Linked DNA regions of Homo sapiens. The protein of the gene in region 4 purifies or fractionates together with the protein of the main gene of each other region. This does not show direct contact. Each region holds a gene or a part of one and is shown on either strand. Other genes may lie near its edges. The genes, in order: UFSP2, UTRN, POTEF, MCOLN2, MGAT1, STX16 and TTC28.

Region 1 (3,500 bases), on a different chromosome or scaffold from region 4:
AGTCCTGGACGCTCAGAAGGTATTAATAAATGCCACCATACGATAGCCAAGTTTTCTTTCTCTTGGGAATCTGAACTGAGAGGTGCAGAGTTAGCCAGGCAGCCAGGAGCAGGAAATGCAGTTGGAATGAGGCATACACTGGGCAGCTGAGGAAGAACAGGAAAAAGTGACACACAAGCTGAAACAGTGAGGATACAGAGGGTATGAGGTGGAGCAGACAGAGTAAAAGTTAAGAACAGGCCAGTTAGGATCACAAGCATACACAGAAAGCAATAGCAATGCCACCAAGGTATCCACGGAGTCCTTGAGAGAGACTGAAGACACCTGCTAGTCACAGGGCTGCTGTTTCTAAGAGGCCCAGCTCTATTGGTATTCCTAATCTTGGATGCCTTATAAGGTCCTTTCTCACTGGCCTCCATGTATCCTTAAAGTAACCCTTCCACCACCCTCCGCCAATTCACTCTTATTTGAGCTACCTTTAGGGAGGATCTATCCCTGGCAACCGGGTATATGTTACATGGAAAATAAGTCTAGTTCCTCATTAGACTTATCCTACAGTGGCTGGGCATGGTGAATCATGCCTGTAATCCCAGCACTTTGGGAGGCCTACATGGCGGATCACTTGAGGTCAGGAGTTCACGACCAGCCTGGCCAACATGGTGAAATCCTGTCTCTACTAAAAATACAAAAACTAGCCAGGTGTGGTGGCAGGTGCCTGTAACCCTAGCTACTGGCCAACATGGTGAAACCCTGTCTCTACTAAAAATACAAAAATTAGCCAGGTGTGGTGGCAGGTGCCTGTAACCCCAGCTGCTCAGGAGACTGAGGCAGGAGAATTGCTTGAACCCAGGAGGCGGAGGTTGCAGTGAGCTGAGATCACACCATTGCACTACAGCCTGAGTGACAGAGCGAGACTCTGTCTCAAAAAAACAAAAAAAGATTTATCCTACAGTGTGGTTTGGGTAGACTATGCCCTTAATTAGCATGATTTCTCAGGTTCAGAATGAAAAAAAATGGGACAAGCCTTTAAAGAAATAAGAGAATTTTAGTAAGATAAATGTGGTATATCTACCTATTACTAACTTTTCTAGACCATTTTTAATTACTGCTATCTTAAGCAATGTCTGTTAACAGAGATGGGTGATAAATCATGTTTTAGGAATGAATACATAATGAATCAAGTCTCCTACTGGGTACCAACAAAAAACAACTAATAACATTACTGATCCAGTGACTCCCATAAATAATTAGTTAAACTCACCATACCAGTCTCCATGTTAGGTGGATTAAGGTAAGTATGTGGATTTCTAATGTAACCATCTTTGTATGGCTCATCTGGAAAGTGATAAGCATTAGACCTTTTGAAATAGGGTCTGTCGTGAGGCAGATTGAAAAGATCATGTAACTCCTAAAATAAATCAGAATCAACAGAAAAAGAAAAAATGTTGGTGATTTAGATTCCTAGTCAATAAATAAAGATGTTATTAAACATGGAAAATTATATATAGGTTATAAAAGTTTCCAAACACTTATGGTTTAATTCACTAACATCAAAGATGGTGAAAACTGAACTAAAACCAAGTAAGATTTATTTTCGTTTACGTCTGTATCTGGGTAGAAACTGGAAGGGAACAGAGAAAAATGAATATAAATTGTTAGAGTAAGAGAACTAATTTTTAAATAATTATTTATTACAACATAGTCTGTTAAAATACATCCAGGCTAAAGACTGGTTTTGAAATAGCCTTGTAAATGAGTAAATTATAATTAACAATAATTATATCAAAGTATTTTGCAAAATTGTGTCGAGTGCCTTACAAATATTTTATATTGTAAGTGGTAGTGATTAAACTACAGAGTAGAAGTTAGTGGTCTAAAGCCAACCAATATGGCAGGAAAACAAATACACATATATGTTTAAAATGTGTTATTTTCCCAACTATATAAAAACATGTAATAGGTATTTTAAAAAGTTTGACATGTTCTTTATCATATCTTGTACTCCAGTGGTTTTAAAAGATCAGCTCCTGTAGCTATTGCTTCTACAAACCAAGTCACCTCCACATACAGAGGGTCAGGGTATTCTCGCTCTCCCTAAGGACAGAAATTAGGAAGATGCTCCACGGTCTAATTTGATAGGTTCTAAGCGAGTCCACATATCAAAAAGATGCACTCCAAAACCAGTCATGAGTAAATCTCATTACTTTGAATGCTGGTCATGTTTTCTCCAAAATTCCTCTAATAAAGCCCAAATAACCTTACTTGTGGAGTATTACCATAAATCCTATTCAGAATTAGCATAAGTTATCATTTTCCTTCCCTAACTGTAATCTTGTCTCTTTCACAAATCGGAAAGTTATAGAAATCTGTTAATACCAGCAACTTTAGGCATGTAAGCACCATTTCTATATTTCATTATGGAAAAATATTAAAATTTCACAGAATATATGAACCACACCGAGCATTTAAAATTAAAATGTTACATATAGGTTCAACATAACATTTTGTCATTAATACTACTTAAAGTTTCATGAGAACAGAAATTAAATAATGTGTAAAATGAATAGTCTAAATTCCACACTTTTAAGTTAAATCACAAAATACCTTCCATTTAGTGGAAATATATAATTAAATACAAAATGAATGATAGTCATTATTGTTTTTTCTAAGAATAGATGAACTGGTTTTACCTTCCTATAGGCCTGCAGCTGGCCATCTGGTATTCCTGAAGGATATGAAATTGTTACAAGATTTTTTTTCCCTGGTAATAAAAAGTGCAGTGGTTCAGGGACCACAATAGATGTTCCTTTCATATATTTCAAAATACATTTTTCCATGTCAGTTAGTTGATTATGAATTGCATCAACCAGGAGTTTACGAACTCTGTGGGGGGAAATATATAAGTGTATTAACAAAAGTTATAGTGACTACAATAAAGAAAAGTACAGAGCTAATATATCCTTAGTATAGTAAAAAACTTGATTGGACCAGGTTTGCTAAAGGAAGTCTGAATTATACATTATAAAAGAAACTGTGTATTTGCTCTTTGTGGATAAAGGGAAATCCTCCAGGTTTTAGCATGCTACCCTACTTCCTCCAAATAACCATTTAATTAATAGATGGCTCTTAGGTTAATAATAAACAAGGAGAAAATCACACCTTAGGTATACCTACAGGATATACAAACATGGGTTTGGGGAAGGGCCCTCATTCAAATGTGGCAGTGGTACTATAAAAATACTTACTTTCCCCATGTTTCTTCTGGAGCAACAGATATAACTGCATCGACAGGTAAAGTCATATTAACATAATGGTGTCCTCCGCTTTCCCTTTCAATGATGGGCGTTACAGCTGCCAGGGAGGTTGACATTTCCAGCATAAGATCTATATTTACTATTTGATGCTATATAGATAAACAGTAATAGTCAACTTGTAGTGCATTAAACACTAAATATAAAGAGTAAGTAAAAAGACTTTTCAAAAATGTATTTATTATTAAG
Region 2 (3,500 bases), on a different chromosome or scaffold from region 4:
GTCCCTGGAACGATTTGCCTTCCCACTCTGACACTGTCAATGGCCTATCTCTGACTTTTGACTTCAAATGTCAAAAACCTGCAAAAAGTAGTTTCATGTATTCAGCAATTTACTACTACCTGGGCTATTTCTACCACCCCAACCAAGTTACTACTATAATCTAATCAACAGTCTGTATTTCACACAGGCCCTCCATGCCTGAAACATTATTTTGACCATTTTTAAGCAATTTTCTCTTATCTTCAAGGTCCAGTTTACTCTACTTTTGACTTTGCTTCCAGGCAAAAGGAAATAAATGTGCTCTCTAGCACATTAAAAGTACATCTTTGATAAGTCCCAACTTAAATACATAATAAATGGGGATCTAGAAAGAATGTAAAATATTTAAATAATAAATACGTGAATCTTATAAGATAATTACTATTTACCCCGTAATAAACTTAAACTCCCAGTGGCCTCTGGATTTACCTCAAAAGCTCTGAGTGTGAGAGCAATTTCCTCAAGCAAATGTAGATCTTTGGAAACCAAGACCTTTAGCTTGTTCCACTTTCCTTGCACATCATCAAATTCTTGCTTATATAATTTTTCTACATCAGGATGAACATTTTTCTCCAGAGCCTTTGTTTCTTCTGCAAGTTTATGTAATGCAGGTTTCTGATTCTCAAGGATTTCATCAAGGGTCTGGAAAAAGTTTTAAAAGATTAAAAATATGCACAAAAATGTGTCTGCACAGATATAGTAAAATGGGCTATATAAAGTCAAAAGTCACTTTAAAATGCATTAGAAAGCATTTTTATCTAAAAAGAACAGTGGGTGGGAGTGTGAATTAGTTCAACCACTGTGGAAGACAGTGTGGTGATTCCTCAAAGACCTAAAACCAGAAATGCCATTTGACCCAGCAATCTCACTGGGTATATACCCAAAGGAATACAAATCATTCTGTTATAAAGATATATGCACACTATGTTCATTGCAGCACAATTCACAATAGCAAGGACAAGGAATCAACCCAAATGCCCATCAATGATAGACTACTTAAAGAAAATGTGGTACATATCAACCATGGAATACTATGCAGCCATAAAAAGGAACAAGATCATGTCCTTTGCAGGTATATGGATGGAGCTGGAAGCCATTATCCTCGGCAAACTAATTCAGAAACAACAAAAAAAAATACCGCATATTCTCACTTATAAGTGGGAGCTGAATAATGAGAACATACGGACACATGGTGGGGAAAAACACACACTGGGGTCTGTTGGAGGGTGGGGCATGGTGGGAGGGAAAGCATCAGGAAGAAGAGCTAATGGATGCTGGGCTTAATACGTAGTGCAGCAAACTACCATGACACACGTTTACCCATTTAACAAACCTGCACATCCTGCACAAGTACCCCTGAACTTAAAATAAAAGTTGGAAATCAAAAAACAAAACAAAACAAAACATGAAAAACTCATGAAAAAAATAGGCATAATCATAAAAATTAAAGCTTTTTCTTCATGAGTTGTGTGTGGGCAATACAGTGTATTCTCAACCCTAAAAACCAAGGGAACAGCAAACCCAGTGTGGGCCAAGTGTGCAGTGCTCAATGGCTGCTCTCCTTTTCATCTAATAGCACAGAGCCATAAGGCTACTCAACTAAATGACCTCGGAAACATTCCTATTCGATGCAGAAAAAAGTATACATCAACACGTCAACTGATAGTCCTCATTTCATAAAGATATTTTAGCAGATTTTATGAACAGGTTGAGAATTTTAAGCTAATCACAGCAGAAGGAGAAAATATGCTTTTCTTCTATGAAAAAATTTTTAATAACTGTACTTTCTTTTATGTGAGGTCAAACTAACCCTCAAATCATAAACACATTTTTGCACCAATGATGAACAAAACTGACCAACTTTTTTTTTAATCTCTGAAAAAACATTTCAAAATATGTAAGAGGAGATATTAGAAGAAGCGCTAGAGTTCTAACATGGAAGATATATGTTACCTTTTTTTCTTGCAGGGCCTTCTCCACCTTGGCAAGATCATTAAGGACATTCAGAGACACCTGGGCCTTATTTTCTGAATCATTTAGCACATCTTTCAGTGTTTTCAATGTTTCCAGATATGCATGTCCAGGTTGGCCCTTCAGTTCTGTTTATTTAAAAATATTTAGTTTGAAAAAATCATATTAGGAACCAATATTATTACATAGACCATTATCCTAAATGAATTCCAATACATGGCAAAGGAGACCCCATGATTAAAATGTAAAAGGGTCTCTGTTAATTAACAACATAGATCATTCCATTGGCATTTCTGAGAGTCAGACAGTGACTTCATTCCTGCGGATGTTGACGTTTGAAATATTAACTAACCCACTATAATTTTTCTTCATTTCTTCATGATGAAATGTCTCTCTGAAGATGGAACAACAATGTCCCTTTTGTTCCATATAATCTCCTCTTCCTTAACAGCTACACAAAGAATAAAAGAAAACAAAGATCCCTTCAACCAGTCTTGCTGTAAGCTCCACCGTGTAGACAAACCCAGGTCCAGAGTGGAGGAGATTATATGGAAATACTGCCACCATGCTGCCCAGGTACCCTGAGAAATAATGACTGAACAGCCAGCTGGAACAGTGTCTACCTCAGTCACTAATGTAAAAATATCACAGAAGTAACACTTGCGTGGAAAGGAAGTGAGTTCTCTTGAAGCACAAAGAGGTGAAACCAACTAGCAGCAAAAGTTAAACTGCCTACTGATCCTTGTCAAAAGTGAAAGCACAGCTTGTACCAATAAGTGGAGAAAGAGGTACCCTCAAAGACATATTTCACATAACTGAATTCAAGGAACAAAGACATGCTGTCCAGATGCACTTTCAGAAGAAAGGCAATACGACACATTTGCCTAGCATGCACACATACAGACACTTCCAGTCATCACACAATCTACAATTGCTGAAGTTAGGCTGGGTTACATGTGGAGCATTTCACACAATGCTCAATGCATTTCACAAAATAATGCACAATGCAACACAGTTCCTAACTCAAATGGCAGCTAGGAAGTAAATAGTGTAACGTAGGAGGGATGAGCTTTCAAAATCTTTAACAGTGAACCTTCCAAAACCAAGTGTATTCCAAAAGTAAGAACTCTAAAATTTTTCTGAATCTGACAGTGGAATATGATTTCTTTTAAAAGACAGTATGAGACTGCCAAAACTTTAACTATTTTGAGGAAACAGAAGTAAGGGATCATTCATTTTGATCCTCCTAGCAATGATATTAAGTGGCCTCCTCAACCAAAGGAAGAAATTGCACCTGTTTCTCAAAAAAAAAAAAAAAAAAAATCTTTAAAAATCATTATATCCAGGTCAGGTACAATGGCTGACACCTGTTATCCCTGGTATTTTGGGAGGCTAACATCTGTTATTTTGCCTAACACCTGTTATTTTGGGAGGCTGTTATATCACCTGTTATAATGGCTTACACCTGTTATTTTGGGAGGCTGAGGTGG
Region 3 (3,500 bases), on a different chromosome or scaffold from region 4:
TATAACTAAATTTATTCATAAATATCTCATTAAAGTAGATAATGTGATTGTCCACTATTACGGAGTTGATCAATCACACCAAGGGCAGAAAAACCAATGGATGTTAAGACCTGACTTGGACCAACGATCCTTCTCTACCGACTCAAACTCTCAGCCAGTAGATGTCTGTTAGGATAATGCTTTATATTGATGTTCAATTCCAGCTGACATGGGAGACCAAAAGTCTACTTTTATTTTTTTTTTAGTTTCCACGGAGAAGTAGCAAGCTGACATTCTGTAATTTTCGACATACATACTAACAATATATTTTGCACGGAACATGTTATTCAGCTCAAAGTCATCTCATAGACCATCTTACATGACTATTTTTGCAGCACAAATCACAATTTCAATATTTGGGTGGCACCCATTTTGCTTTGATTCACACTATTTCCTCAGAGCTAGTCAGCAAAAATAGTCAAATGACCTTCCAGTGACTGCACAAAATATGGAATGCTTCAAAGATCTGTCCTGCCTCCTTATGCAGAAGCCACGCTAACTTTCCCCGTATTGTTCCAATTTTAGGATATGTGCCGCCGAAGCAAGCACAAAGCCCTACTTTTACATATGATTAGTGATGCGTCATGGACAAGGCTTGGCTCTGTGAAGTCCAACTAACCTACTTGAGATTCTGAGAATTCTCTTCAATGGCTTCCTGTGAGCTAGAGTTTGAAAATATCTTAAAATCTTGAGCTAGAGATGGAAGTAGCTCCGATAATTTTCATTATCATGTAAATCAGATCACTCAAGGGGCCAACCACAGCTGGGAGCCACTGCTCAGGGCAAGGTTCATACGGGACTTTCTACTGCCCAAGGTTCTATACAGGATATAAAGGTGCCTCACAGTACAGATCTGGTAGCAAAGAGGAAACAGACACTGACCTCCTTCTGCCACATTATTTGAACCCCTCTCACCCTTTAGAACAAGCCCACCTAACATCTGCCAGAGAAAAGACCAACAACAGCCTCAAAGGATCTCTTACCATGAAGGTCTCAGCTAATTCCTGGCTAAGATGTGGGTTCCACATTAGGTTCTGAATATGCGGGGAAGGGTCAATTTGGTCACTTTGTGTGCGGATAAAGTCAGGATGCCCAGCGGCCAGAGCAGGGGGCTGGTGCTCTGGGAACAATGGCTGAGCATATAAGCATAGGTATGGGAATTAAAAAACATCAAAGTCACTGTATGAATCGCCATGAAGACTTGAGGGATCTGAATCTACTGATTCATCTTAAGGCAGCAGGACCAGTTTGAGTGGCCACAAAGCAGCAACAGAATCAACGGAAACAACAGAATGATTGCAATGTCTTTTTTCCTCCTCCTTCTGACTTGATAAAAGGGACTGTCTTCCTTGGATTTAGTGAACTCCTTCGGTTCTTGAAAAATTCAAGGAGTATGTAGGACATAGTCCCCAGAAGACAGTACAAGACTTTCCGCTAAACTGGACATTTCAAGACCCAAATAACTAATCAGAAAAATTAAAGATGTGACACTATTTTTTATCCCTGCATAGGTGTTACACTTGGATCAAATGAACAATGCTGGGATCTCTAAGGATAAAGATCTTAAAAGTCCTGAGATAAAGAATCCCGCACCCATTGGTACTTCTAACTTGTCTTGCTTTTTGTCTGATTTCTGGCTGATGCAGGGGACTAAAACTCACTGCCACGCGAAAACTACCTGAACCAAACTATGACATCTCACCTGATATGTGAGATGCAACTGTTATAATTATTTTAAACCTCAATTCAGCATTAACTAGCCTTTTAATGTAAACACTTACACATGATGATGACTAGAAACAGCATACTCTCTGGCCGTCTGTCCAGATAGATCTTGAGAAGATACATCAATATTTTGCTCAAGTAGAAGGCTGACTATACTTGCTGATCCACAACATACAGCAAGTATGAGAGCAGTTCTAAAATGACAGAGATAGGAACTGTAATAAAGTTATTTTTAAAGCTAATTTGATATACTTTACCAATGTAACATCTTGCCTGTCTGTGCAGAATCAAACATTTACATGCACTAAAAGACATAAGCAACCTGAGTGCTCAAGTGTTCATCTTTGTAAAATGCCACCAAGGTTAAAAGGAAGGGACCAAAAAAAACCCTCTTATCTCAGTGGGGTATTGCATAGCAGAAGCTACTAATTTAAAGTCCTTTGATGGGCAAGAAACAATGTTAGGGCCACTTATCTGAGGTGGACAAAGATTTAAGTGAAGATTTTGTCACAGCTTCCCTAGACTGACATGCTGTAATAGAAAATCAGCTAGGGGGTAAGAGAAATAAGAGCTCTCTGCATGCTCAAAGCAGTAATAATAATGGTAAGAATAGTAGTCATAGGAGTTTCAGTTAATGGTGCCAATAACCATGTGCTAGGCACTGAATTAAATGCCACATATATCTTTCTTACTTATGCACAGCCAACTTTGAAGGATATATTCTCCTACTTTTCATATATGACAACATATTTGGTGGTAAATAACGTCCCCAAGGTCACACACCTAGCAAGTAAGAAAGTTACTAATTAAACCCAGTCTTGTGTGAATCCAAAGCCTAGCTCTTTTCTCTTTATCACCCACGTACGGCTTGTCTTCATTAAAGGAAAAGTGTATCCACTTAAAACTATCTTCACTCCCTCTCTCCATACCAATTAAAAATAAAAACATCAAAATACACTGGAAAAACAAAAGGAAAAAAGCTGTTGAACCCACAGTATGTGGGAACAGCAATTAATTGTTATGTAGGGATAAGCTAACACTAATATTCTTCAAAGAAAGCAACTTAAAGCAAAGTCATTAAAAAGACAAAAGGATTTTCAACCCCTATTTATGTTTAATACAGCATATTTAATGGAAAAGCATGTAAGACACAGGTTAAAAACTATTAGAAAGGGTTAAGAAGTTCAATACTGAGTCATAAAGTAAACTAAAAGTTAAAGTTCAAACTTCATAAAATTAATATGAAATCCTTTAAGCTAACATAAGATCATGTAACCAAAAATGTCACATAACAAATAACATCAGTCAATATAATAAGAGAAGATGAATCCTACTAAAACTGTTCTTTATGTTGCCCAGCCCAAGTAATTGTTTTTCTACCTAACTGATTTGTGTTGATACTGATCACTACATCCCAGTAAGTATACATTAATCTTATTAATTTAATATTTATGACTTGAGTGACTGCTGTCCATCTACAACACACAGATTAAAAGAAAGAACTATACCTTCCATATCTATCCAGTGCATTTAAATTCGCTTTTTTCTTAATTAAAAATTTCACGACTTGCTGTTTTTGCTCATGTACACCAAGTAACAGTGGTGTGAGGCCATGCTGTAAAACAATATAAAGCAAAAACCTATGTAATTCAAAAAAGTACATATTCCTCAACCGAAGTGGAAACTTTATATAAGATCTTATGGACTTACACGCATAGAAGTAAATAAAATGTAGT
Region 4 (3,947 bases):
ATCCTGTCCTTTGCACCTTTGAAATCAGATGCTGGCTTGTCCTCTCTACTAGGAAAGTCCTAGATGGCATCTCCTGCCAATAGAAGGCTGTTTTGTCTACATTGAAAATCTGTTGTTTAGAGTAGCCTCCTTCATCAATGATCTTAGCTACATCTTCCAACTAACTTGCTGCAGCTTCTATATCAGCACTTTCTGCTTCGCCTTGCACTTACATGTTATAGAGATGGCTTCCTTTCTTAAAGCTCATGAACCAACCTCTGCTAGCTTGAAACTTTTCTTCTGCAGCTTCATTACCTCTCTCAGCCTTCACAGAATTGAAGAGAGTTTGGGCCTGCTCTAGATTATGCTTTAGCTTTAGTGAATGTTGGTGCTGGTTTGATCTTCTATCCAGACCACAAAAACTTTCTCCATAACAGCAATAAGGCTGTTTTGCTTCCTTATCATTTGTATTTTCACTGGAGTAGCACTTATAATTTCCTTCAAGAACATCTCATATGCATTCAAAACTTGGCTAAATGGCACAAAATGCCTAGCTTTTGGTCTGTCTCAGCTTTCAACATACCTTCCTCACTAAGCTTAATCACTCCTACCTTTAAAGTAAGAGACCTGTGATTGTCCCTTGCACTCAAACACTTAGAGACCACTGTAGGGTTATTAGTTGGGCTAATTTCAATATTGTGGTGTCTCAGGGAATAGAGAGGGTTGGGGAGAGGAAAAGAGATAGAAGAATGGCTGGTCGGTGGAGTAGTCAGAACACATACAACATTTATTAATTGAGTTCCCTGTCTTATATGGGCACAGTTCATGGCACCCCAAAACAATTACAGTAGTCACATCAAAGATCAGTGGTCACAGATCACCATAACAGATATAATAATAATGATGAAAAAGTTTGAAATATTGAGAGAATTGCCACAATGTGACATAGAGACACAAAGTGAGCACATGCTGTTGGAAAAATGGCACCAATAGACTTGCTGGACACAGGGTTGCCACAAACCTTCAATTTGTAAAATAAAATAAAATTGAATTAAATGCAGTATCTACAAAGTGCAATAAAGCAAAGAACAATAAAACAAGGTATGCCTGCACTTTTTTCTATGAACCCCTTAACATGTGACACAAGAGCTCACTAAAGAGTGATTTAATTCTTCAGAACTGACACACGGAACTTAGACCCTAGGCCTTAAAGAAAACAGCCCAGCTTCAGGAAAGTCCACTTTTACTTTTACAGCCAGAAGAGTTTTCTTTGGCCACTACTTTTACTTTGAAAGCTATAGTCACAAGAAGCCATCTCTTTTTCCGCCGGTTTTAAAATTGTCTTGTTCTAGGTTTCACTTCACTGACAGAGACATAGCCAAAGAGATCAGCTTGTGAATATGATCATTCTTGACTTTCAGTTCTGTATTTCGTGCCCCTTTGCTCAAACTATGTCTCTCAGTTCTTCTCACTTGCTTCATTAAAATATTTTATATCTATTACTCTATTTTTTTAAAAAAAAACACTTTTGATATGTTCCTCCTTCACAGAAAAGAATGTGGCTACCTCAAACACTTTATTAGGATTCACTCATTTTTTATTACAGGAGGTTAAATAAAATTGGTATTATGATGGCCTCTGTATGGAAAATGTGTCGTTTTTAGAGTTCCGGCCACAGAAACTGACCTATGAACGGTTTTCTAAAGGAGAAGGGTGTGCCTGTGGAAAGTTCACGGCAACGGGAGTTTGACTCCTCTTAAGGTATGAAGAGGAAGACAGGCTAAAGTCTCAAGAAACTTCTGACTCAATAGGGGAAAGCTATCAAATTTCCCAAAAGTTGTGCGATTTTGGTTAGCACATCACAAAGGTGATGAGCAGCTCCTGAGAGTGAAACCCACATCCCATTTCTGGGGAGAACTACGTAGTTGGTTCCCTCTACATAAAATATCAGAGTCTACATCCTGACACCCATAAGAAACCTCTCCCACCTTTCTCTTACTAACCTTTTCTTCCATTCTCAGTTTACAATGACACACAATTTTGTTTCCCACAAGTACCGTTCAACCAGAGACACACACACTTACACATACGTATATATTTCATATATATATATATATATATATATATATATATATATATGTTTGGAGAGCAGGAAACGGGGGAGCCAAGGTCTGTTTGTACTCACAACTTTGGCTCAACTGTGCTGGGGTGGCTGGAGGTTTGACCACGGAGGAGGGGCCCGCTGGCAGCGCCAACCGGCTGAACTGTGCGCCTTTTCATAAAGGCCGAGGAACTGGGGTTAGCCACACTACAACCCTCCCACCTGAGGGAAAGGCCTGTTTGTTCTGGAAGGCACAGCCTAGCCTTATTTAACTAACTGCAAGCAGTTAATATAAGCATTCCCAAGGCAGCAAGCAAGCTCTAGTCTACGAAAGTAAAGCCATCGACTTTAGGAAGATTTCTCCAGTCCAGCATCCTGAAAGATGAAGCCCAGACTCCTCACCTGACGGTTAACCTGAAAACACCTGATCCTCTCTCCGGAATCCTTGCCTGGGGAAAACGATAAGGCTGCCGGGCCATGCCTCCTCCTTCAAAACTTTCCAGGGCTCTCGGGATTCGGAACAGGAAACACCGTTCACGGCCGACTCATTTCGCCCTCGCCGTAACGCGTCCGCCGAAGTTGGAGCCCTGCAAAGCGGGGTTCCCTTCTCTTACCCTTTCTGCCGGCCGCGTGGTGCGCGCAGACCCCGGCCCGAGAGCAGGCGCCGCAGTCGTGGAGTGCGGCGGGCAGTTCTCGGGCGGCTGAAAGGCGGCTCTGTGTGCACCCTGCAGGATGCGGCGCGTGGCCAGGCGCTCCCGCCCCGCCCCCAAGGGGCTGCCCCGCCCCGCCCCGCCCCGCCGCCTCCTACCGGGGACCGGAGCTTCCCCAGTTGGGGTCCTAGGGGACTTATTCCACGCTTCAGCGGACCAGCCTCCCCGCGCTCCCGGAGAAGGGGGTCGGCGACGCGGAGGCGGGGTGGGGGCCGTAGGGGATGGAACCGAGGCGCGCGCGAGAAGAGCCGAGGAAGTAAGCAGTCCCAAAAGGGGGCGGCGGTGGGGCCCCCAGGGAGGCGTGGGGCACGCCAAGGGCGCCGTGGGGCACTGACCTGTGGTGCGGCCCCCAGGACAGGCCCGAGGCGCGGTTGCACACCGGCAGGTCCAGCACCTCCATGCCTCGAGGCATGGCGCGGCCAGGGAGCGGCAGGAGGACACCTAGCGTGGGACGGCTACACCTGTCTGGGCGCAGGCCCGCCGCCCTTGCACTCTCCACCCAAGTGCCCAACGCTGCGGTACGGCCCGCTTTGGCTCGGGGTGTCTGCCGGAGAAGCGCCTTACAGAGGGACCCGGGCGGTGGGCCCTGCGGCAAAGTGGCCCACGCACCCTCCACACCGCTCCCGGGCGGCCGCACCTGGCACTCCCGGCCCTCTGGGGTTCCTGCCTTTTTCGGGGGGGTGGTGGTGAGACCGGGTCTCACTCTGTCGCCTGACCTGCGATCACTGCTGACTGCAGTCTTGAACTCCTGGACCCAAGCGATTCTCCTGCCTCCGCCTCCCAAAGTGCTAGGATTACAGGTGTAAGCCGCTGCGCCTGGCCCCTTCTTTTCTTCACTCTCTCATGCATTCATTTCTTGTTTCCACATGCATTAATTTGTCCGTTGCTTTGGTCATTCCTGTTTTGATGCTTAGGGAAACACTCACTGAGAGCCAAGCCGACCGTTGGGTACTGTGGTCTCTGGGATGACAAAGACATGGTCCTTTCCCTTGAGGACTTCACATTAAACTGACAAGTTCATTCATTCTGGCTTTTCTCTAAAGTGCACGATCATGAAAGTCTGTGACAAGGGCCATATTTCTGAGATGTTAGAAAGTGCGACCGGCGCGCAAGGAATAGGAAAAGCGAGTTGCCCTGCGCCCGCGTCGGGATGAAAG
Region 5 (3,500 bases), on a different chromosome or scaffold from region 4:
TAGGAAGAAGACAAGTGGTTGGTGGTGAATGCTGGCAGGGGCTGGTGAAGTCTCCCCAGGAGGGAGACAGAATCCATGTCTCTTTAGAGGCCCTTCAGGATCAGCCCTTTTATACCAGATCTGCTGGTTTGAGAGCCCAGAGCCTCAGAGGTTAGATCTGAGGCCCAAGGTTTTGGCCAGGATTAGAGAGTAGCCTGTGAGGCAGAGGGCAACTGGCAGAGCTGTTGGTGTAAGAGGGTGCACGCCTGAAGCTTTGGGGTGTAAAGGGTAGACCAGAGGCAGGACAGTCAAGGAGTTATGGTCTGGAGTGGCAGCTGGCTGGGAATTGGGGAGTGTTTCAGATCCTTTCAAGTAATGTGGTCTGGTAGAGCTTGGAGGATTGGTGGGACCATGCCTTTTTCTCACTGGTTTGTGTCCTGGTTCCTTCCCAGAGCCTGGCAGAGAGCAGGTGTGTGATACACGTCGTCAGGTGACTGACCGAGGAATTCAGGGCAAACAGATCATCTCAATTTGCCTTGCTGATGTGCCAGCTGGGATTACGCTGATGGATGAAGCTCTTCAGAGCTATGGGCAATATCTACATATTTGATTGTCAAGAAACTTCGTGTGGAAATAGCTTCAAACTTACACAAATTGCAAGAATAAAAAATAGTATAAGGATATTCGTACACACTCTCTTTACTCAGATTCACCTGTTAATATTTTGCTCCATTTGCTCTCTATGTGTGCAGAGTATGTTTTTGTTCTGAACCATTTGAGAAGTTGCATCTATCCTGGTCCTCTACTTCTCAATACTTCAGTGTGTATTACCTAAGAATTGGAATTAATCAGTTATCACTGATACTTTAACCTACTGTCCATATTCCACCTTTGTCATTTTACCCAATAACGTCTTTTTAAAAAAAGTTTTTTGAGGTTTCATTGACATACAATTGATATCAATATGTGCAAAGAACTGCATATAAAGTGTACAATTTGATAAGTTTTGACATATATGTGTGTGTGTGTATATATATATATATATATATACCTGTAAAAGTATCACCACAATCAAGATAATAAACATATCCACCCTTCTAGAAGCTTCCTAATGCCCCTGTGTAGTAACTACCCTACTGCCCTTCTCTGCCTCCATCCCCAGGCAACAACTGATCTGCTTTCTGTAATATAGATTAGTTTCTATTTTCGGCAGTTTTATGTCAATGGAATCACAGTGTATGTGCTCTTTTTTGTTTTTCCCAAAAAGACCCATATTGTGTAATTATTTGGAGATTGTGTTGTGTATGTCAGTGGTTTATTCAGTTTTATTGCTGAATATTATTCCATTCTATGAGTAAACCACAATTTGTTTATCTGTATTTCCCTGTTGATGGGCCTTTGGGTTATTTCCAGTTTTGAGTGATTATGAATAAAGTTACCATCAACACTCCTGTGTAGGTTTTTGTAGGGACATGGCTGAAAGTAGAAAGAAATGGGGCATGCAGGAGAGACTGGGCTTGGTTATAACAGCCTGTTATCCCTGGGGAACTAGCTCACTCACCAGAGGACGTTAGGAAGGATCTGCCCCTGCCCCCCTTGTGATCCAAACACCTACCACTAGACCCCACCTCCGGCAGCACCACCACACAGGGGATCAAATCCCAACATGTGTTTCAGAGAACAAACCATATTCAAGCTATAGCATAGCTACGTAATTATTATAACACTATTAATAAGACCATCTTTGCCTTGGGAATTTTAAGTAGCACCTTTATTACATATTAGATTTTTTTGTGTAATGAGTCTGTTTCTGGAGCTTAAATTCTATTTCACTGGATGGTCTGTTTATTTATGTACCAGTACCACGCAGTTGTAATTATGGAGGTTTTGTAGTATGCCATATATATATATATATAATAAAAAAAAATTTTTTTGAGACAGAGTCTCACTCTCTTGCCCAGGCTGGAGTGCAATGGCACAATCCAATCACAGCTCACTACAGCCTCAGCCTCCCAGACTCAGGTGATCCCATCTCAGCCTCCTGAGTAGCTGGGACCACAGGTGCGTGCCACCATGCCCAGCTTTTTTTTTTTTTTTTTTTAATTGTTACTTGTAGAGACAGGGTCTCCGTGTGCTGCCCAGGCTATTCTTGAACTCCTGGGCTCAAGTGATCCTCCTGTATTGGCCTCCCAAAGTGCTGGGATTGCAGGTAGGAGCTACTGCATCTGGCCAGTATGCAGTATTTTCATATCTGGTAGGGCTGAGTCCCTCCTCACAGCTTATTTTTATTGTTTTCCTAGTTTTTCATGTGAACTTTACTGTCAGTTCGTCTAGCTCCATAAAAAGGTATTTTTATTGGGATTTTTGATGATGCTGAAATGTCCTGACCAAGAACAAGGGATATTCAGATGTTCTTTTGTGTCTTTCAGGAATGATAGTTTTGTTCACATAAGTTTTGAATGTTTAAGTTTATTTAAGTTTATTTCTAAATATTTTCTCATTTCTCTGGCTTTTGTAAGTAGGGTTTTCTCATCCATGTTTTCTTCTCATGAGTTATTTGTGGATATGAAGGCTATCCATTAGTATATGTTGATTTTTATATTACACTTCCTTGCTCAGTTCATTATTGATTCTTTTTGAGTTTTCCAGGCATATTCTCACAAGTAAAGATAATAGAAATAGTTTGCTTCCTTTCCACTTCTGCTTTGAATTTTTTTTTCTTGGTTCATTTGCATTGGCTGCTTCCTCCAGCAAAATGTTAAATAACCCTGGAGATGATGGGCAACTTCGTTTTGCTCCTGACATTCGTGGGGTGCCTCTGGTGCTTCCCTGTTGGTAAGGGGTTAACTGTAGCCCTGAGGTGGGACATTTGATTTTAAAAATCAGTCATCTTGGGGCGCTTAGGTTAGAGGAATGGTAGGCAGATGCTGTCACTCCTTGCCCCTCCCCTCCTCCTTCCCACCTGGAGGGGAAATGAAATCTGACAGGTAGAAAGAGGGGAGTTGGGGTTCTTTTTCTCTCTCCCTCCACCAGCATCACTCTCTGCCTCTCCCTCAAAAATACGTTCCTGGGTCAGGATATATGTTGACTCCCTAGAGAGCTCTGGAGTCAACCTCCTGGCCTTCCTCCACCCTCACTCTTGGCCTTTTCCTGCCCCCATTTCCTCTACCTGTGGGGCATGGAGCCACGAGCCTTTGTGTGACGGTTTGCTTTCTCTCTCCTGTCTTTAGGTGCATGGCTGCCTCCTAATCCCATAGTCCAGAGGAGGCATCCCTAGGACTGCGGGCAAGGGAGCCGGGCAAGCCCAGGGCAGCCTTGAACCGTCCCCTGGCCTGCCCTCCCCGGTGGGGGCCAGGATGCTGAAGAAGCAGTCTGCAGGGCTTGTGCTGTGGGGCGCTATCCTCTTTGTGGCCTGGAATGCCCTGCTGCTCCTCTTCTTCTGGACGCGCCCAGCACCTGGCAGGCCACCCTCAGTCAGCGCTCTCGATGGCGACCCCGCCAGCCTCACCCGGGAAGTGATT
Region 6 (3,500 bases), on a different chromosome or scaffold from region 4:
TGAACCGATTTCCAGTCTTTCCTACTTCCTTTTTCAGGCAGCAAGTTCCAGAAACTGGCTACTCACTGCATGAACTTGGCAGGCCCTTTTGCTTTTCTTATGTTTCACCTCTAAGGGCTTAAAAGGGAGTCTTCACGCTCTGTGATCAGAGGCCCTGCGTAGAGAGCACTATCTCCTCCACGCTCACCCCAGTGCTATTAGAAATGCAGGTTGCTGCCTCATCGTGGGTGCCCACGGCCACCTCATTTCCTTGTGCGTTTCACTTGCCTCTTTTGCTCTTTTGTGCAGTGCCGTTATCTTTTTCATGAAGTGTGGCTTCCACAATTGTCTGTGACGTACATTTTATTTACCTCGTGCATTCATTCCACTCGTTTCTTGTCGGATCACTCAGCTGGTTGTGATTGTGCGTTCAGGACTCTGAAGTGCCAGGTACTGGCCTAGGAGCAGGGGGTGTGGTTGGGGACAGTGTCCAGAGGCTTCTTTGAAGCTGACGCAGGGCCTCACATTGGCATCTCTGGAAATAGTGAACACCCAGCTCCAGAGTGGATTAGATGTTAGCCACCCCTTTATAGGGGAGGCCTGAGCAAATGTCCCTGAGTGAATATCACTTGCATCTCCCAGAGTAAAGGCATCTGACGGCCTCACTTCAGAGGCTTCCTGCAGTCTGTCCATGTTTGATTGTCATTCTCCTCCTCTAGCCTGAGTACCCTGGAGATGTCACTTTTCCTTCTCAGAAAACACTAAGTAAGGTGTTCCCTGAGGAGGACCCGAGCCCACCATTGGTTCTCTTACCCAGGGAAGTGTCTGGCCCTCTCCTTTGTTCTCTGTCTTTAATCTACTTCCTGTCTTATGACAAAGAAATCTCTGGGAGTTTTTAAACTCAAGAATTATTTTAAAAGTCACAAGATAACAAATGTCAAGCCCCCAAACCACACTGCCTGGAGGACTGCACATCTGGGAGTGCCTGGGCCGGGCCCCAGTGTCCATGTTGGTGAAATAGGGAGCGGCGCTCCTCTGAAGGATTGTTCTTGGGACTGGCATGGGCCAGGTCAGTAGCAGTGCTCAGTACAGTGCTCACAGAAGGCAGGGAGGGACGGATTGCTCCCCTCCTTTTTCTTCCCCTCAGAGTATGTATGTTAGTTGAGAAAAAAGGAAAATCAGTGAAACTTAACAACAGTATCAGGGTGATGTGATTCTCAAGTGTTTTTATCTCTATATTTTTTGTATCATTTATTTTTATTTTTTTGAGACAGAGTCTCACTCTGTTGCCCAGGCTAGAGTGCAGTGGCGCGATCTCGGCTCACTGCAACCTCTGCCTCCCCAGTTCAAGCGATTCTCCTGCCTCAGCCTCCTGAGTAGCTGGGACTACAGGTGCGTGCCACCATGCGTGGCTATTTTATTTATTTATTTATTTTTGTATTTTTTAGTAGAGACGGAGTTTTGACATGTTGCTCAGGCTGGTCTCGAACTCCTGAGCTCAAGTGATCCGCCTGCCTTGGCCTCCCAAGTGCTAGGATTACAGGCGTGAGCCACTGCGTCATCCTATGCCATTTTAAAAGTATTTATTTTGACCATTTACTAATTTCATAATTAGAAAAGGTAAGCATTATTTTAAAATTATTACGGGTTTAGAAAAATGTAGTGCTGACATCACTTTTTTCTTTTATCCACATGCTTATTCACTTCTCCAACAACTCGGATTTCTTAAGCCTAATTGTCTATTAGCGAAGTAGTCTGACTTCATCATACAGGCTCCCAGAGTTTCACGTGGAAGTGTGAGTTGCCAGTCTGTTGATTTTCAGTGTCCCTTCTGGGCTTTCCAAGTGTTCATTGCCATAGACAGTCCAGAATTATCGGTATTGTTCTCATTACCAATGCGTTACGGCTAAACTTAGTTGATTTTTTTAGATGGGGAGGAGGTGTAGCTGACTTTTCCAATCTCCACAGAGGCTTTGCTATTTCTGTAATCTTAGTCTACACTAAATCAGCCTTCAGGGAAAGGCAGGGTTTTTAAGAGTAGGAGGGCCATAGATTTGGAACAGCAAGATTTATAAGAGAGAATGTGTATGTTCTTTCCATAGATGGAGAACTTGTCCATACTGGCTGGTACTCTTTAAATGGACAAATGTCAACATTTGAAGTGGATCAAAGGCAAAAGATACCTTTAGTGAGACTGGCAGGAAAGCCATTGGGTGTGCTGTTTTGAACATCTGTTGGATTTTTTCTGCATTTCTCTCAGGAAGGATGGCTCTAGGTTAGGGTAGCGGACCCCAGTAGTTCTTGGAGAGAGGAACTACATATCAAAGAGGCAAGAATTCTTAATTCTCTTAAGTACAATTTTTATTTAAAAAATATGGATTTTTTTTTTTTTACTTCAGAAGCACAAATTTATTTATTTATTTATGTATTGAGATGGAGTCTCGCTCTGTCTTAATAAAAGGCTGGAGCACATTGGCACGATCTTGGCTCACTGCAACTTCTGCCTTCCGGGTTCAAGTGATTCTCCTGCCTCAGCTTCCCGAGTAGCTGGGATTACAGGTGCATGCCACCATGCCCGGCTAATTTTTGTATTTTCAGTAGAGACGGGGTTTCACCGTGCTGGCTAGGCTGGTCTTGAACTCCCGACCTCAGGCAATCCGCCTGCCTCAGCCTCCCAAAGTGCTGGGATTACCGGCGTGAGCCACCATGGCCAGCTGCACAAACCAACATCATATATTTGGAGGGGGCACCATGTTGAAATTCAGTAAGGGTAAGGAGAGAGAATTAGAAACCTGGCCATTTTTTAAGATCTGTATGAAATAGGATGGCAGCTTGAAAATTGATACATATGCTGGATCTTCAACAATAAGAAGACATGTTTTTAAATGGAAAGTGAGGTTTCTGAAATTAAAAGGGTGCTTATGTTGCACATAAAATTTGTTTATGTCCATATTTGTTCCCATTTCAAATAGTTGACGCTTATCTTCAACAATTGTTTTCCCTTCCCAAAACATACTGTCTTGTTTTTTAATAGTACATACTGTGATACACATTACAAATCCATACTGCTAAAAGAAATGACACATTTCTTCTCAATAGGGTGGTGTTTCTTTATTATAATGAACTATAGCTATAGACTGTATCATAAAAGAGACAAATTATTCGCTATTTAAAGTTTTCATTCCCAAAGAATCAGCTGTTCTATCTTACTGGCAAAACTCTGATACAATGTGTGGGAAAGCTAGTACCAGCTGAGCAGGCTGGCATCCATGCTGTTCATGTAGGAATCTCTAATTAGCAAGCTTCCTTAGGACCCTTAACAAAGAGTGTGTTCTCCCCACTTTTGATTTACATCTAATTTGAGGGGAACACATGCATAAAATCAAGTACTGCTTCAAAGAGTTGTATTCACTTCAACCGACTTTTCATATGTGGTTTATAATTTGTTGTTTTGGATAAAATGATACTAATCCCAATGCAGGTAAATTTAGATAGATACCATCTCTCTGTCTTCTTTAGTT
Region 7 (3,164 bases), on a different chromosome or scaffold from region 4:
ATATTATTGTCTAGTATTTTTTGTTAGCCGAATGAAACATTACTCTTTTTATAAAGGCAATATTTGTGTTCATTTATGCATATTTACCCAATTCTTTACTATTCCTTCATGCTTCTCACACTTTTGCATATAGAATTATCTTCCTTCTTTCTGAAATACTACCTTGGAAGTTTTGTTAGATGATATAGGGATCTGGTGGTGATGAACTCTGTTTCTGTTTGTCGAAATACGTATTCAACTGTCGAACTTTCTGGCCCTCCAACTATGAGTAGCGTCTAAATTACCCCCCCACCGACAGTGCCCCCAGACCAGAGACGTGCGGGACAGCTCTGCTGCATGCATGGTCGTGCTCTCTGCTTGGCGGATGTGAGGCTATGGTGTAGAGGTGGGGTTAAAACTAGAGAGATACGTGCTCAGTAATGACACACGGCCCACTCCATGTACTGCAAAGAAACCTAGACAGTGTGGAAAGAGTAGAGAAAGTGATCCAGATACAGCACTTAAAACTGAGGGAACTCATGCTTTAATAGACACTGAAAATCACAAAGGAGGAAGGCCAAGTGCCTTAGCAATCTCAATAAAAATATGAAGTTCTTTTTACATGGTAAATTTCATAATATAAAAAGTTTAATGTCTGGAAATGGTGTAATTTACAAAAAAAGTCCACGTAGGCCAAAGATGGCTAACACTGCATATAAGGAACGTGAATGCCAGTGGGAAGGTGTCTGAGGAGGGGCAGGGCCACAGGTGTCCTGACAGGGAACATCTTTGAAGGATCTGGCACAAACAAGGGCCCAGTTCACAAACCACAGGTACACTCATTTTAGATAGAACAGCAGAATAGGTGATGAAAATTATACAGTTTTCACTTGTTGCCTACTTACTGAAAGCAAACCAGATTATTGCATGGCATTTTTCCAGCCTGAACTGAAATTATCAAGGCTACAGTTCTTCTTGTGGGTCTGCAAATGTGTGTGGCTGGGAGGTGGCAGAATCGGCACGGGCCAGGGACCGGCTGCAGTGATCATATGCTGGAGCGTCACTGGGACAGAGAGAGCAGGATGAGGACAGCGTGGGTGACACCTTTGTCTCCTGCTAAAACCCAGCAAGTTTCAGTGTGGACCGTGAATTTTTAAAAAATGGAATGGAGGTGAAAACTTTCATTTTGTGTTGCACATCAGTGTGGATCAAAATGTAAGTTTTAGTAGCAATTTTTCTCTTGATATTTTGACTTAATTAAAAAAATCAAATTAGTTGAGTCATTTACTGGAGAGAATTAAGAAAGCTTTGACTCCCTTGCTCTGTGGTCCTGCTGAGGTTTCTAAGAGAGGGGAGTTGTACGGCTTATAGTCATTGTATTTACATCTGATGGAGTAGCAGAGGGTGGGGCATGCCAGTTTCCTGAGCTAAAAGGAAATATATGCAATGCTTTCTGCAAATGGTAAGGAAAAAATTGTTTTGTAAATATTACATCCATGGACTCCTCCCAAGTGGGACAAAGAGCCAAGGGCTATGCAGGAGGCATTTGCTTCCATCCACGTGGCCCTCACATACCCTGGGCTCCCCGGACGCCAGTCAGTCTATCCACTACCTGACTTGCTTTTCCTAGACTGGAGAAACAAAACGTTATTCCATTTTCTGTCATCCATACCAGGAGTCAGCAAACTTCTTAAAAGGCCAGGTATTGGCTGGGCGCAGTGGCTCACCTGTAATCCCAGCAGTTTGGGAGGCCAAGGCGGGCGGATCCCCTGAGGTCAGGAGTTCGAGACCAGCCTGGCCAACATGGTGAAACCCCATCTCTATTAAAAATACAAAAATTAGCAAGGCATGGTAGTGGGTGCCTGTAGTCCCAGCTACTTAGAGGCTGAGGCAGGGAGAATTGCTTGAACCCAGGAGGAAGAGGTTGCAGTGAGCCAAAATCGCACCAGTGCACTCTATCCTGGGTGACAGAGCGAGACTCTGTCTCAAAAAAAAAAAAAAAGGCCAGGTATTGAATATTTTATGTGGTGTGGGCCAAAGGCAAAATCAAAAATATGATGTAATTACTTATATAACCCTTTAAAAAGGTAACTTAGCTCATGGCTGTGAAAAACCAGACCGCTGACCAGTCTTAGCCTGTGGGTCATAGTTGCCAACCCCTGATCTACACAAAGAAATCTTGGTGAATTATACAATTTCCTTTAATTCTAAGTGCATACTTTTTCCAGTGTAGCCTGAAACATTCACTGTGATTTTATGATTTTACATCCATTTTACTCATACAAGAACACCAAGACTGACATACACGTAAAGTGGCGGTGACTTTACAGTGGCCTCTAGACTGTTCTATCATTTTATCACTTTTGTTTTCCCTTCCTTGAAACTTATATTTAAGACAGAATAAAACCACATAAACCATTGGCTCTTCAGTATGAAACCTAAAACAACGATGTACATGGGACTAAAACCAGGTTAGAGTCCATGAGTAACTCCTAGCTGGCTCAATAACCACAGGAAGCGGCAGGGTGGTGGGGGTGTTTGCTAGAGAGGGGCAAATAGGGCCGCAGCCTTCCCCTCACAGAAAGAGAGCACAGACCCCAGAGCTTTACTCCAGGGATCCTTGGCACTTGGGAAAGAAGGAGGCTGAGAGATTTGCTAAGAGAGGGACAGCCTAACCATCTGCATATGGATTTAGAAACTTGAGGTTTACTTTTCATTGTTAAGAACCTGATTTTGCTATCTAATGCACAGTGCTATAAATTTGGTCTTCACTTGCTACACTGGTACTTTTATTACCATTTTTTCCCCTACTAACATAAAGAAACCCTCATAATTGCTGGCTTCTTTATAAAGTACTTCGCTTTCAGTGTTGGGATCAGGGCTAGAATAAGACATGCTTATTGTTGGCTTTTGTCAACATGGCTGTTGGTTAAATTAAAAACCCCTAGGATGGAGCTCAGGAGAACACAGATTGGATAAATATTATCCTTTCTTCTTTTCAGAGGAGTACACTGAGGAACAGGTGAGATTGTCAGTGTATGCGCAGAAGCTGAGATCCCACCCATGGTTAAAACCCCCACCTGGGGATCCTGAGGTCAGTGCCCCCTGCCAGGCCCCTCAGGTCTGCTCCATGTGCTGCTGGTGGCCCAGGCCAGGTGGCCGCCCACCTTCATGAGGAACCCTGT

What was found.
Region 1: the proteins of MCOLN2 (region 4) and UFSP2 purify together in Homo sapiens (affinity purification with mass spectrometry; one large-scale study listed by BioGRID and IntAct). This does not show direct contact.
Region 2: the proteins of MCOLN2 (region 4) and UTRN purify together in Homo sapiens (affinity purification with mass spectrometry; one large-scale study listed by BioGRID and IntAct). This does not show direct contact.
Region 3: the proteins of MCOLN2 (region 4) and POTEF purify together in Homo sapiens (affinity purification with mass spectrometry; one large-scale study listed by BioGRID and IntAct). This does not show direct contact.
Region 5: the proteins of MCOLN2 (region 4) and MGAT1 purify together in Homo sapiens (affinity purification with mass spectrometry; one large-scale study listed by BioGRID and IntAct). This does not show direct contact.
Region 6: the proteins of MCOLN2 (region 4) and STX16 purify together in Homo sapiens (affinity purification with mass spectrometry; one large-scale study listed by BioGRID and IntAct). This does not show direct contact.
Region 7: the proteins of MCOLN2 (region 4) and TTC28 purify together in Homo sapiens (affinity purification with mass spectrometry; one large-scale study listed by BioGRID and IntAct). This does not show direct contact.

What each region holds. Positions count from the first base shown.
Region 1 is NC_000004.12:185,412,465-185,415,964, forward strand, and holds part of UFSP2 (ufm1-specific protease 2), read right to left. Parts: intron 3,404-3,500; coding exon 3,246-3,403; intron 2,884-3,245; coding exon 2,691-2,883; intron 1,409-2,690; coding exon 1,262-1,408; intron 1-1,261. UniProt on the Homo sapiens protein: Thiol-dependent isopeptidase that specifically cleaves UFM1, a ubiquitin-like modifier protein, from conjugated proteins, such as CD274/PD-L1, CYB5R3, DDRGK1, MRE11, RPL26/uL24, TRIP4 and RPL26/uL24.
Region 2 is NC_000006.12:144,459,835-144,463,334, reverse strand, and holds part of UTRN (utrophin), read right to left. Parts: intron 2,139-3,500; coding exon 1,993-2,138; intron 682-1,992; coding exon 469-681; intron 1-468.
Region 3 is NC_000002.12:130,108,723-130,112,222, forward strand, and holds part of POTEF (POTE ankyrin domain family member F), read right to left. Parts: intron 3,380-3,500; coding exon 3,273-3,379; intron 1,959-3,272; coding exon 1,821-1,958; intron 1,636-1,820; exon of another isoform or gene 565-1,635; intron 1-564.
Region 4 is NC_000001.11:84,994,314-84,998,260, forward strand, and holds the start of MCOLN2 (mucolipin-2), read right to left. Parts: upstream 2,801-3,947; 5' UTR 2,560-2,800; coding exon 2,483-2,559; intron 1-2,482. UniProt on the Homo sapiens protein: Nonselective cation channel probably playing a role in the regulation of membrane trafficking events. Acts as a Ca(2+)-permeable cation channel with inwardly rectifying activity.
Region 5 is NC_000005.10:180,792,807-180,796,306, reverse strand, and holds part of MGAT1 (alpha-1,3-mannosyl-glycoprotein 2-beta-N-acetylglucosaminyltransferase), read left to right. Parts: intron 1-431; exon of another isoform or gene 432-1,426; intron 1,427-1,940; exon of another isoform or gene 1,941-2,040; intron 2,041-3,209; 5' UTR 3,210-3,335; coding exon 3,336-3,500. UniProt on the Homo sapiens protein: Initiates complex N-linked carbohydrate formation. Essential for the conversion of high-mannose to hybrid and complex N-glycans.
Region 6 is NC_000020.11:58,661,283-58,664,782, forward strand, and holds part of STX16 (syntaxin-16), read left to right. Parts: intron 1-3,500. UniProt on the Homo sapiens protein: SNARE involved in vesicular transport from the late endosomes to the trans-Golgi network.
Region 7 is NC_000022.11:27,977,514-27,980,677, forward strand, and holds the end of TTC28 (tetratricopeptide repeat protein 28), read right to left. Parts: 3' UTR 501-3,164; downstream 1-500. UniProt on the Homo sapiens protein: During mitosis, may be involved in the condensation of spindle midzone microtubules, leading to the formation of midbody.